Linked DNA regions of Homo sapiens: region 2 is linked to region 1. The links come from fine-mapping of genetic effects on gene expression. A gene starts in region 1. The other region holds a variant in brackets. All regions are shown on one strand. Distances are between the middles of the regions. Region 1 holds the start of CKB (creatine kinase B). Region 2 holds the start of LOC124903392 (a long non-coding RNA gene).

Evidence for each region. PIP is the estimated chance that this variant, and not a neighbour inherited with it, causes the effect.
Region 2: its variant is fine-mapped to the expression of CKB in whole blood (INTERVAL, PIP 0.91).

What each region holds. Positions count from the first base shown.
Region 1 is chr14:103,520,733-103,525,986 of GRCh38, forward strand. CKB (creatine kinase B) reads right to left here and starts at 2,098. Exons shown (of 8, transcript NM_001823.5): 1 at 2,034-2,098; 2 at 1,569-1,773; 3 at 1,291-1,445; 4 at 1,086-1,218; 5 at 531-702. The coding sequence starts at 1,761. RefSeq lists enhancers at 1-563, 2,340-3,225 and silencers at 337-706, 717-786, 927-976.
Region 2 is chr14:103,549,650-103,555,122 of GRCh38, forward strand. It overlaps LOC124903392 (a long non-coding RNA gene), which reads right to left and starts at 3,832. Exons shown (of 2, transcript XR_007064357.1): 1 at 2,306-3,832; 2 at 1-1,991. It also overlaps the pseudogene RNU7-160P. The variant T/C (reference allele first, on the strand shown) is at 2,119.

The sequences.
Region 1 (5,254 bases):
CACGGGGCGGGCGGGGGAACCGGGACGCCTCACAGCAGGAGAACCCCAGCTGCCATCATGCGCTGTGGCCTGAGGTGGGGCGGGGCCAGGGACCGCCAGGACAGCCCGACCCGCCCCCCACAGTGGGGGTAGGAGCCCTGCCCCTGGAGAAGCTTTGGCGTCACCAGCCCCTGGTAGAATCCCAGCGGCGGAGGAGTGAGAAAAGAAAACAAAGAGCTCCAGCTCCCAGGGCCGTCGGGGAGAGGCGCCAGAGAGCCCCGCCCCCACCTCACGTCTCGGGGTGGGGAGGTGTTGCTGAGTCCTGAGCCCCCACGGGCCGGGGCCCAGTCCCTTAACGCACCTGCTCGGCCAAGGTCACCGGCGCAGGAGGAGGCGCGGCACGGAACCCAGACCCGGAGCGCGGCCGGCCCCTCCCTCCTCCTCCTCCTCCTCCTCGCCGCGAGGGGCCCCACCCCCGCGAGGGGGGCGAGAGGGAAAGCGGAGGTAGCGGGGAGGGAGGACGCCGCGAGAGGGCGCAGAGGGACACGCACCAGATACCGCGGGCGTCGGGCCAGTCGCGGGCCATGCCCGAGGCCAGCAGCAGGGGCGACACGGGCTTGTCGAAGAGGAAGTGGTCGTCGATGAGCTGCTGCTGCTCCGCCTCCGTCATGCTCTTGAGCGCGTAGTATCGGCCCGCCAGGTCGCCGTCCAGGCTGGACAGGGCTGCGAGGGGTGCGCTCAGGACGCTCGGCTCCCGCGCCCGCCCCTCCAGCCCGCAGCGCGGACCCGCCCGCCCCCGTGCCCCACCTCGGGGGACGTCAGAGGGCCCCACCCGCCCGGATCTGCGGGCGTCCAGTCCTCACGGCCCGGGCGACGGTCCCAGGCGGTGACCCCGCGCCAGGACCCGCCCTCCCTGGGCCCCAGGCCGCTGTGGGCGCGGGGCTGGGCCTCCGTCCCTCGGTCCCTCCGGGAAACTGAACCCGGGCGCGCGCAGATAAGAGCGCGACGGCGGCTGCCGCTCCCGGGCGACGTAAACAAAAGCGGGCGGGGACCGCGCCGGGAGGGGGACGCGGCCGCCGCCGCCCCTCGGCCCGCCCGGCCCCTACCTTCCACCGCGAGCTTCTCGATGGCGCGGCGCTCCCCGCGGCTGCAGTGCGGGGGGAGGCAGAAGCCACGGATGCTGCGGCCCGTGCGCACCCGCGAGCTCAGCACGTAGTTGGGGTCCAGGTCGTCGCCGCCCTGGGAGGCGAGACGGGAGTGAGCGCCCGAAGACCCCGGCCCCGCCCGCCCGGCCCGCCCGCAGCCCCGCACCTGCAGGTTGTCGGGGTTGAGGTCGGTCTTGTGCTCATCGCTGGGCTTGTAGCCGCCGTGCCGGTCCTCGATGATGGGGTCGAAGAGATCCTTGAACACTTCGTAGGACTCCTCGTCGCCCGCCACGCAGCCCACGGTCATGATGTACGGGTGGCCTGGGGGAGGGGGCGCGGGACGGGGACAGTGACGTCACTGCCGGGCCCGAGCGCGCTGCTGAGGACCCTGCGGCTGCGCGGGGGGAGGGGGGGCCGGGACCCCGGCCCCGAGGGGTCGCGTACCCGGGTTGTCCACGCCTGTCTGGATGACGTCGTCCAGCGTGAAGCCGCTCGGCGTGCTCTTGGCGCGCAGCTCCGCGTACAGCTCGGGGGTCAGCACCTTGGCCATGTGGTTGTTGTGGGCGCTCAGGTCGGGGAACTCGTCCTCGGCCGGGAAGCGCAGCTTCAGTGCGTTGTGGCTGTTGGAGAAGGGCATGGCGGCGGCGGGCTGCGGGGAGACGCGGGGTCAGAGGGGACCGGCACGCCGGGGTTCCCGGGCTCCCGCGTACCACTCAGGCCCCCGCCGCCGGGCCCCCCGGCGCCCCCCGGGACGCGGCCAAGGTCAGCGGGGTCCGCAGCGCGCGCGGGGAGCGCCATCATCGCCGGGGACCCCCGGCCGGTCCGGCGCGCGCTCCAGGCGACGCGCCCCCTTTGCACGCAGCGCCCCTAGCCCGGGCGCGGACGCCCCCGGCCCCCGGGCCCACTCACCGGGCGGCCGGGCGGGGGCGGGGGCGCTCCGTCCGTCGGCAGCTCCCGGAGCGACGCAGGCGAACAGCGGCCGCTCCGCGCTCCCGCGGCTCTTAAGGGGCACAACGCGGGCCGCCCATTGGCGGCTATTTATAGCCCATTCATTCCATTGGCCCGCGCCGCGGGGTGGTGCCGCCGCTTTGTCCGCCGCCCGCAGCCCCCAACACCCTGGCCGCCCACCCGAGCTGTCCCCTCGCTGGGACCCCGCGCAGCCTGCCCAGTCCCCCGCCCAAGACCTCGAGGCCGAAACCTCAGGTCCTTGGATATCTGGATCCCCTCGCACGCCCTTGCCTCTGGGCGGGAAACTGAGGCGGAGAGCCTCCGGGCACTCGAGGACGCTTGGGTTCATCCGCATCCTCGAGCCTGCCCGCCTAGTCCAGCCAGCCCCCGCGGCGGCGGCGAGGGGCCGGGCGAAAGCTTTCGGGGCTTCCGCAGCAGGTACGGCCCCCGCCCCACCCCCGGCCAGTGCGAGCTGGCCCGGAGCCGCCGACCTTCCTCAAGGTGCCCGCAGGCGTTTCCTGGGCGATCCTGGTGCAAAGCGAAGGCGCGCGGGAAGCGCAGTCTGGCTGCGGCCCAGCCCGGGGGCACCCGCGGTGCCCTGACCTTGGACAAGTCCTGGGTCTCGGGGGGCTGCGAGCCAGAAACCACGGGGACGCTGTGGCCTTAAGAGGCCGCTGGCAAGTGCAGCCTCGGAGTTTCCAGACCCCAACCCTGGGCCCTCTTCGCAGGGGACAAGTTTACCCGACCCCCAAAGGCAGTCCCCGGAGACTTCAGGCAAAGATGGGAGGAAACGCTAATAAACAATAAGCATAAGTGCGATTAAAAAAAAAAACTGATCTCACGAATAACCAGAATCATGCAAATTAAGCAGTGACTCCACCTGCCCCTACCCCCAACACTCCCAGATCGACCCCAGCCATTGCTGGCTTTGAGCTGGAATGCGGGAAGACAGGCGTCCACACGCTGCCTGCAACTTAAATTGCTGCATGCTTTTTGCAAGATAATTTGGCAGAATCTATTAACGTTAACAATGTTCGAACTCCGTGACCCAGCAATCTCCCCTTCTAGGAATGCAGCCCTTAGAAAGGATGTCTCAGTTCTCTCCACTAATGGACCAAGAGATCTGTGGAGGGAAAAACAAACATAACTGGATACAACCCGATGCCCCATCAGGCGGGAGTGGCCAAGGGTAGGGAGGCATCTGCTTGCTGTGGAATATTATGCAGCTGTTAAGAGGGGGAAGTGGAGGATGTGGGGTTAATATCCATCAGGGACCCTCATCTGTTGCTCTGTGAATAAAGCAAAGAAGGGGGGAACTCTTATCTGTGGGTATATTTGATACAAATCCCTCCAGCAGTGGCACAATGAGCACCTAACAGGTGCCAGCCGCTGGGGATACAGCAGGCAGCGAGGTACACAGCGCCTGCTGCTGGAAGAAGACTGGCCATGAGCCAGCAGCCCAACAAACCAGATGACATCAGATCGGTGCTGCTGGGGCCAGGGGGACACAGAGCAGTGGCGTTCCAGGTATAAGGGACCCCGAATAGGTGCCTCAGAGCAGAAGGCACCAGAGCCAAGGCCCAAAGGCAGGGGAAGCCTGTTCGCCTCTGCCTATGTGAGCATCGGTGTGGGGGCCTTTTCTCCTGTCTCATCCCCATGGTCACTGCAGAGGAGACACATGCCTCTTTGCTCCTTGGCATGCTTCGTCCTGTTCCAAGCCAGCATTTTTTAGACTTAATAAAACCAACCCATGTAAAAAGGCAAACGGCCCCTCTGGGCTGGCCAGACAGCAGGTGTCCCTTAAGCCTGGAATTCCTGCACTCTGTGCCCCGTGCAGCCTCTTCGCCCAGTTTTAGAAATTTCTGCAGCTGCCCACCTGCTACCCCACAAAACCTGAAGGGCTTAAGTTTCTGTTTCTGGAAGGGATAGCTGCAGCCCCTGGAGGCAGACTTGGGGGGAGGGAGAGACTTGGGGGCCACACTCAGGACTTCCTCTGTCTTCAGCAACTGCAGCTTCTCAGAAGGCCAACCCTCCCCTCTCTCACCCTCCTGGCTGAGAGCCTAACCTGCTTCCCAGGTCCCCCATGGGAAAGGACCCCCTTTCCCCTTTCCTGAAGGGGGCAGCCCCTCCCCCCAACACCTGTGGTTATTTCTCGTCAGGTGGGATGAGACTGAGAAAAGAAATAAGACACAGAGACAAAGTATAGCGAAAGAACAGTGGGCCCAGGGAACTGGTGCCAGCATATGGAGGACCCGCGCCGGCACTGGTCTCTGAGTTCCTTCAGTATTTATTGATCACTATTTCTACTATTTCAGTGAGGGGGATGTGGCAGGACTTTAGGGTAATGGTGGGGAGAGGGTCAGCAGGAAAACATGTGAGCAAAGGTCTCTGTGTCATAAATAAGTTTAAGGAAAGGTGCTGTGCCTGGATGTGCACGTAGGCCAGATTTATGTCTGACTTTACACAAACATCTCAGTGCAGTAAAGAGCGGTATTGCCGCCAGCATGTCTCACCTCCAGCCATAAGGCAGTTTTCTCGTATCTCAGTAAATAGAATGTACAATCGGGTTTTACACCGAGACATTCCATTCCCAGGGAGGAGCAGGAGATAGATGCTTTCCTCCTATCTCAACTGCAAAGAGGCCTTCCTCTTTCACTAATCCTCCTCAGCACAGACCCTTTACGGGTGTTGGGCTGGGGGATGGTCAGGTTTTTCCCTTGTCACGAGGCCATATCTCAGGCTGTCTCAGTCGGGGGAAACCTTGGACAACACCCAGGCTTTCTTGGGCAGAGGTCCCTGCGGCCTTCCGCAGTGCATCGTGTCCCTGGGTACTCAAGACTGGAGAATGGCGATGGCTTTCACCAAGCACACTGCCTGCAAACACATTTTAACACAGCACGTCCTGCACAGCCCTAAACCCATTAAACCTTGAGTCAACACAGCACATGTTTCTGCGAGCACAGGGTTGGGGCTAGGGTTACAGATTAACAGCATCTCAAGGCAGAAGAATTTTTCTTAGTACAGAACAAAATGGAGTTTCTTATGTCCACTTCTTTCTACATAGACACAGTAGCAGTCTGATCTCTTTCTTTCCCCTACACTTTCCCTCCACAGGCAAGGTCAGAACTGCAGATATGAGATCCAGAGGGCAGGGCTGCCTATGGCAAGCAGTGAGCCTGGCA
Region 2 (5,473 bases), 29 kb after region 1:
TCCGAGCTGCCAGGACACGGCTTCTGGTCTTCTTCCTCCCTCCTGGTCCACGCAGCAGTCCTGGGTGCCCCACCCCACACGGCTATGGCCCTCTGTGGGTCTGCCCTTCCCAGCCCTCACCAGTCTGTGAAAGCACTGGGGATGCGGCGAGTTCACGTGCCCGTGGGGAAGGGGCCAGGAAAGACACCAAAGTGGTAAACCGCAGGAACATGAAGCTGTGAGGGCTGGTGACGCCGGGCGGGAAGCCAGGTGGGGAGGCAGGCTGGTGCGTGGCCTGACCCCACCTCGCAGCCGGGAAACTGAGGCACACAGAGATGTCTTGCACATGTCAGGGCCCCAGGTAGGTGGTGGCAGGAGTCTGGGACCTTGGGTGGGCCTCACCAGTCACACAGCCTTGGCTGACCTGTCTGTCCTCCCATCCAGCCAGAGGGACACAAAGACCTCTTTGTCTCTCCACCCTTCCGCCCAGAGCCTCCCCAGCCAGTGCAGCTCTGAGCGTGTCCCCCAGGGAGGGAGACAGCCCCTGGTGGGGACTGGCAGTCCTGGCAGCTGCCCTGAGGCACAGGCCCTGGGGGACTCGGTGCTTTGAGGGCAGGGGCAGGTGATGGAGATCGGCTGGGGAAAGGGAGGCCGAGAAGGCGGCAGTGTGGAGCGTGTGAATTTGTTCATGAACTTAGCTACAAAAATGTCTTTTCCAGTGTCACAGCTCTTCTAGAATTTGACTAGCAGGTTTTCCGATTTTTACTGGAAAGCCCTTTAAATAAAGAAAGAAAAAGAAAAAAAAACGTCTTCCTCAATCAAATCCGAGGTGGTTCCTTCCCCCACCAGGCTGGCTGGGTGGGGAGAGAAGGCTTGAAGCCCAGGCTCCTAGGGAGAGGCTCTGCTCCCCACCCCAGGGCTGGGCTGGGACACCGGCCCTTCCTGGCAGGGGTGTCCTACTCCACAGAGGAGCCTTGGGAGGTGGCCACCACTGGGCCACTGCCCCTCACCAGGCCCAGAGGCCCAGTTCTCAGCCTGAAAAGAAAACCTGCCCTGGGCCCCTCATGACCAGGGTGAGGCTTGTTGGGCACAGAGGGCCTGTCGGGAGCACTGGAACCCAGCGGCCTGGGAGGGGCCCAGGTCTGACGCCTCATCCTGCACCAGGCTCGCTGCAGGCCTTCAGCTCCAGAACTGTGTTCTCAAAATCCTGTTGATGCTGCCACAAGTGGGCTCTCTCCTCCCCCATTCCGGGAAGGTTCTGGGTGAGTGGCTAGCCATCCCTCCCACTGGGAGCTCCAGTATCTGAACTGCCAGCCACCTGCAGCCGCCACCTCACCCCAGGCGGTGCTGCACCCTGGGCTGGTGGGACCAGCCTGGAGGGCCCTCCTGGGGCTCTGGGGCTCATGGACAGCCTCCCACAGAGTGTCTCGGCTGGTCTCATTTCTGTCTGGGAGGGAGTTGGGTGAGCACCAGGGAGAGGCTGAGTGGATGCCCGCCCACCTGGAACAGTGCTAGGTGGGGATGGGGGGGGGGCATCACGGGGCACACACAAGCTGTCGGAAGGGCCGATGTCCACAAGGGACGAGAGTCAGGGGCGCGGCTGTGGGGGTGGAGGCGGCCTGGAAGAGCAGGCATGGCACAGCGGCCGCTGGCTCATGTGGACTGGCGAGGCACTGTCCTGCTGGGGCCGTCCCAAAGGGAAGCATGGCCCGTCACTCCCCAGGCTAAAAACCATCCACGGCTGCCCCTCCTCATGGCTGAAGTGCAGCTCCTAGGCCCTACCCCGACGCTCTCAGGTCCCCTTCTCTCCCTCACCCTGTGGAGAGCGGACCTGCCTCCTGTCCCTCGGAGGACTCTCAGGCCCCAGCCCTGCCGCAGCAGCTCGTGGTCCAGCTTGGCTGGCCCTGCCTGGCCCTCCCGGCTCCAGCAGCAGTGGTGGCTGCCAGCACTCTCACTCTGATGAAGCTCCCAGCCCGCCGACTGGAACAGTGTGTTCACCACTACGGTCTTGCCTGGGAAGAGACGAACTCCTGCACTTCCTGTCACGTTCCACTTCTTGTCCGTGACCAGCTAACCTCCCACCTCCGCCAGGAAGCCTCCCTGGGCTTCTCAACCACCCCATCACATCCGGCCAATGCT[T/C]CTTGCGATGGATCCCTCAGAAAGCCACGTGACCTCTGCAGGGGCCCTTGCCCCAGGTCCACGCCTTTGCCCCCAGCACCTCACAGGTACTCGGCAGATGCTAGTTAAATGGAGACTCCACCCCAAGGCTCAGCTACCCTCCCTCAGTCCTCCTCACCCCATGGGTTAGTGGGTTTCCTTCAAGTACCTCACCCAGCAGCCAGGAAGATTCCTCTTCATGTCAAATCGGTCTGAAGGGCACACTAGGCACGCGGTGGCCCTGACACTGCCCCTCCCTGGTCCTTTCCAACAGCACCGAGGACATGGAGGTCGGCCCAGGCTCAGGAATCACAGAGCTAACTGCTCATTTCGGCATCACAAGCACGAGCAGACGAATTTCAGAGACAGAAGCCAACATCCCCACCCCTCATCTTCAGAGGCTCCAGCCTGCCTGGCCTCTGTGGCTGGGTGGCCAGCCAAGGGCTCTGGAATTGGAGAGGCCTTGCTTCTCTACAGCAGGGTGTGACCCGCTCTGGCCTGCTGGCCCTCCTGCCCCAGGGACCGAGTAGGAGGCACTTTTGATTCCACCCGGGCTCTCAGGGGGATGAGGTGGCCTCAGGTGAGAGATCCTGATTGGCCACCCCAGAGCCCCGGTGGAAGGTGCAGCAGAGAGAAGGTCCTTTGGATCCGATAAGCAGAAGGATTTTAAACACTCTCTGAAGCTGTCTGAAGATCTGAGATTTTTCCACTCATTTATTCAGCAAGTATTCGCCGAATGCCTATTACATGCCAGGAGCTAAGGACACTATTTCCAAAGAACAGCTCATCCAAAAGGCATGTGAGTGCCCATTACTGCCAGGACCTGAGGCTGCATGGATGAAGAGACAGATCTTGCCTTGAAAGGCACTGTGGCCTGGCATGGGAGAGACAGGTGAGCCACTGTGTTAGGAGAGCTATTAATAGGGTACAGGAACAGAAGAAACGCTCCACGGCCCAAGGGATGGGCAGGGAGGGCTTCGGATGAGAGCACCAGAACCCAGGGCCATGAACAGCAAAGTCATCTGATGACCTTACTCTCCGCTCAGCACTCAGAACCACCCAGCTCCATGTCCCAACACCCACAGAGGACTGAGGTGGGGCAGACACCAGTGTGAGATGGAGACAGAAGGTGGGGAACTGGCAACATTCATCTGAAAATGCAGCCACAGGGAAACGGCTCGAGACTGAAAGGGTTCTAACACACACTGAAAACCTACCATTCGCTGTGACCGCAGCGGGGACCAGAGATGGAGAGGCAGTGTGCGGCACTGAGTCCTTACCAAATGGGGTCACAGACCCCTGGCAGCTCCGGAAAGACCAAAGAATCCGAAGCGGGGAAATAGCTTCACTTCACTTCAACCTTACTATAGAAAGATACATTTTTGCAGTTGTAATTCACAAGTGGAAGACGTACGGACAGAATAAAGCACTCGTTTAAGACAGTCTTTCCACGATGAGGGATGCCGGTTCACTGACACAGTGACTTTGAGACATAATACTGGAGCTGAATGTTTCACATTAACCAGCTGAATCCTTTAAACCTAAGTGCTAAGTACTGCCCACCTTTCAGAAGAAACTGAAGCTCAAGGGCTCAGCTTTGAAAGTGGCACAGCTCGCCGGTCACGGTGGCTCACACCTGTAATCCTGGCACTTTGGGAGGCTGAGGTGGGCAGATAACGAGGTCAAGAGATGGAGACCCTCCTGGCAACATGGTGAAACCGTGTCTCCACTAAAAATAGAAAAATCAGCTGGGCGTGGTGGCGCACGCCTGTAGTGCCAGCTACTTGGGAGGCCGAGGCAGGAGAATTGCTTGAACCCAAGAGGCAGAGGTTGCAGTGAGCCGAGATTGTGCCATTGCACTCCAGCTTGGGCGACAGAAAAAAAAAAAGAGAGAGAAAGTGGCACAGCTGAGATGTGAACCTAGCAGTCTGGGCCCCAGCCTGCTTTTAGCCACTTGGCCAGCATTCCCTGAGGTGGGAGCTTTCAGAAATCCTGATGTCCAGACTGTACCCTATCCCGATGAAACCAGAATCGCTGGGGTGGGCCCCAAGCACCAGCCATTTCTTCAACTCTCCAGGTAAGTCCATGACTCATGAACTGTAACCAAATTGTCCTTCCCTCCTTTGCCAAGTGACTCTGGGCAGTTCCCTGGGCAAGGGACCACCTGAATCTCAGAATCACCTATGAAACAGATAGTATGAAAAACCTGCCTCAAGGGGTGCTGAGAGCTTAAAATGTACATAGAACATTTTGCACAGATGGCTGGGCAGTGGAGATGGGGCTGCTGGGGCAGCCTGGACCACACCACTCAGGGCCTCGCAGGGACGTGGCTGGGTGAAATAGTGGAGGCCACTGAAGGTTTTCATTCAGAAAAGCCATATGAGCAGAGCCGTGCTTTTAGAAAGACCAAGAGGGCAAATAGGTGAAATAGCCTGAAATAGCCTGCTGGTGACTGGCATAAAAAAAGGGCACAAGCTGAAGAGACCTAGAACTAGGGACACAGAGTCCTAAGGCTGCCTGGTGACCCCCACCCCCACCCCAAAATCTGTGCAATGATAACTACACAAAATGGAAAAGCAAGGCCAAGTGCAGTAGCTCATGTCTGTCATCCCAGCACTTTGGGAGGCTGAGGCAGGAGGATCGCTTGAGCCCAGGAGTTCGAGACCAGCCTGGGCAACATATTAAGACCCTGTTTCAATAAAAAAACAAAAGAACCCAAAACATTTTGTAAGATGCCCTCAGACATGTCCTGACCAGCAGGGGCGACCCCAGACCTGCATATAAGAGGCCTTCAATTAGGGCTCAGCTTGTACCCAGAATCAAGAGCCAAGCTTGCCAGGGCACTGCCCCTCAGCCCCTGCCACCTCGTTCCAGCTCAGCCCACTCCAGGGTTTCTTCTTTAAAAAAAAAAAATTATATTGATTTTTTTGTAGAGATGGGGTCTGTGTTGCCCAGGCTGGTCTTGAACTCCTGGGCTCAAGCAGTCCTCTCACCTTAGCCTCCCAAAGTGCCATGATTCCCGGTGCCACACCCACCGTCTCCTGTCCTACTTCTAACCAGCCTTGAAGGGCCAGTGAGACCCCTCCCTAAGCCACTGGTCTTTTTCCGGCTTGCACTTGACACCTGACCTGACACCAGACATTCACACCTGAGACAGACCAGGCGCAGCTGACTCCCCTCATCCCTTCTCTGACTAAACTGGAATTTCTCCATGGCCACTGGTGGCATGATGGATTCTTCAATCCTCAGCGCAACACGAGGATACACTAGGAGCCTGGTTAATGCTGTTGCCAGTATAAGTGATAAGAATCCTCACGTGTGGCCAAGGATTTATTCA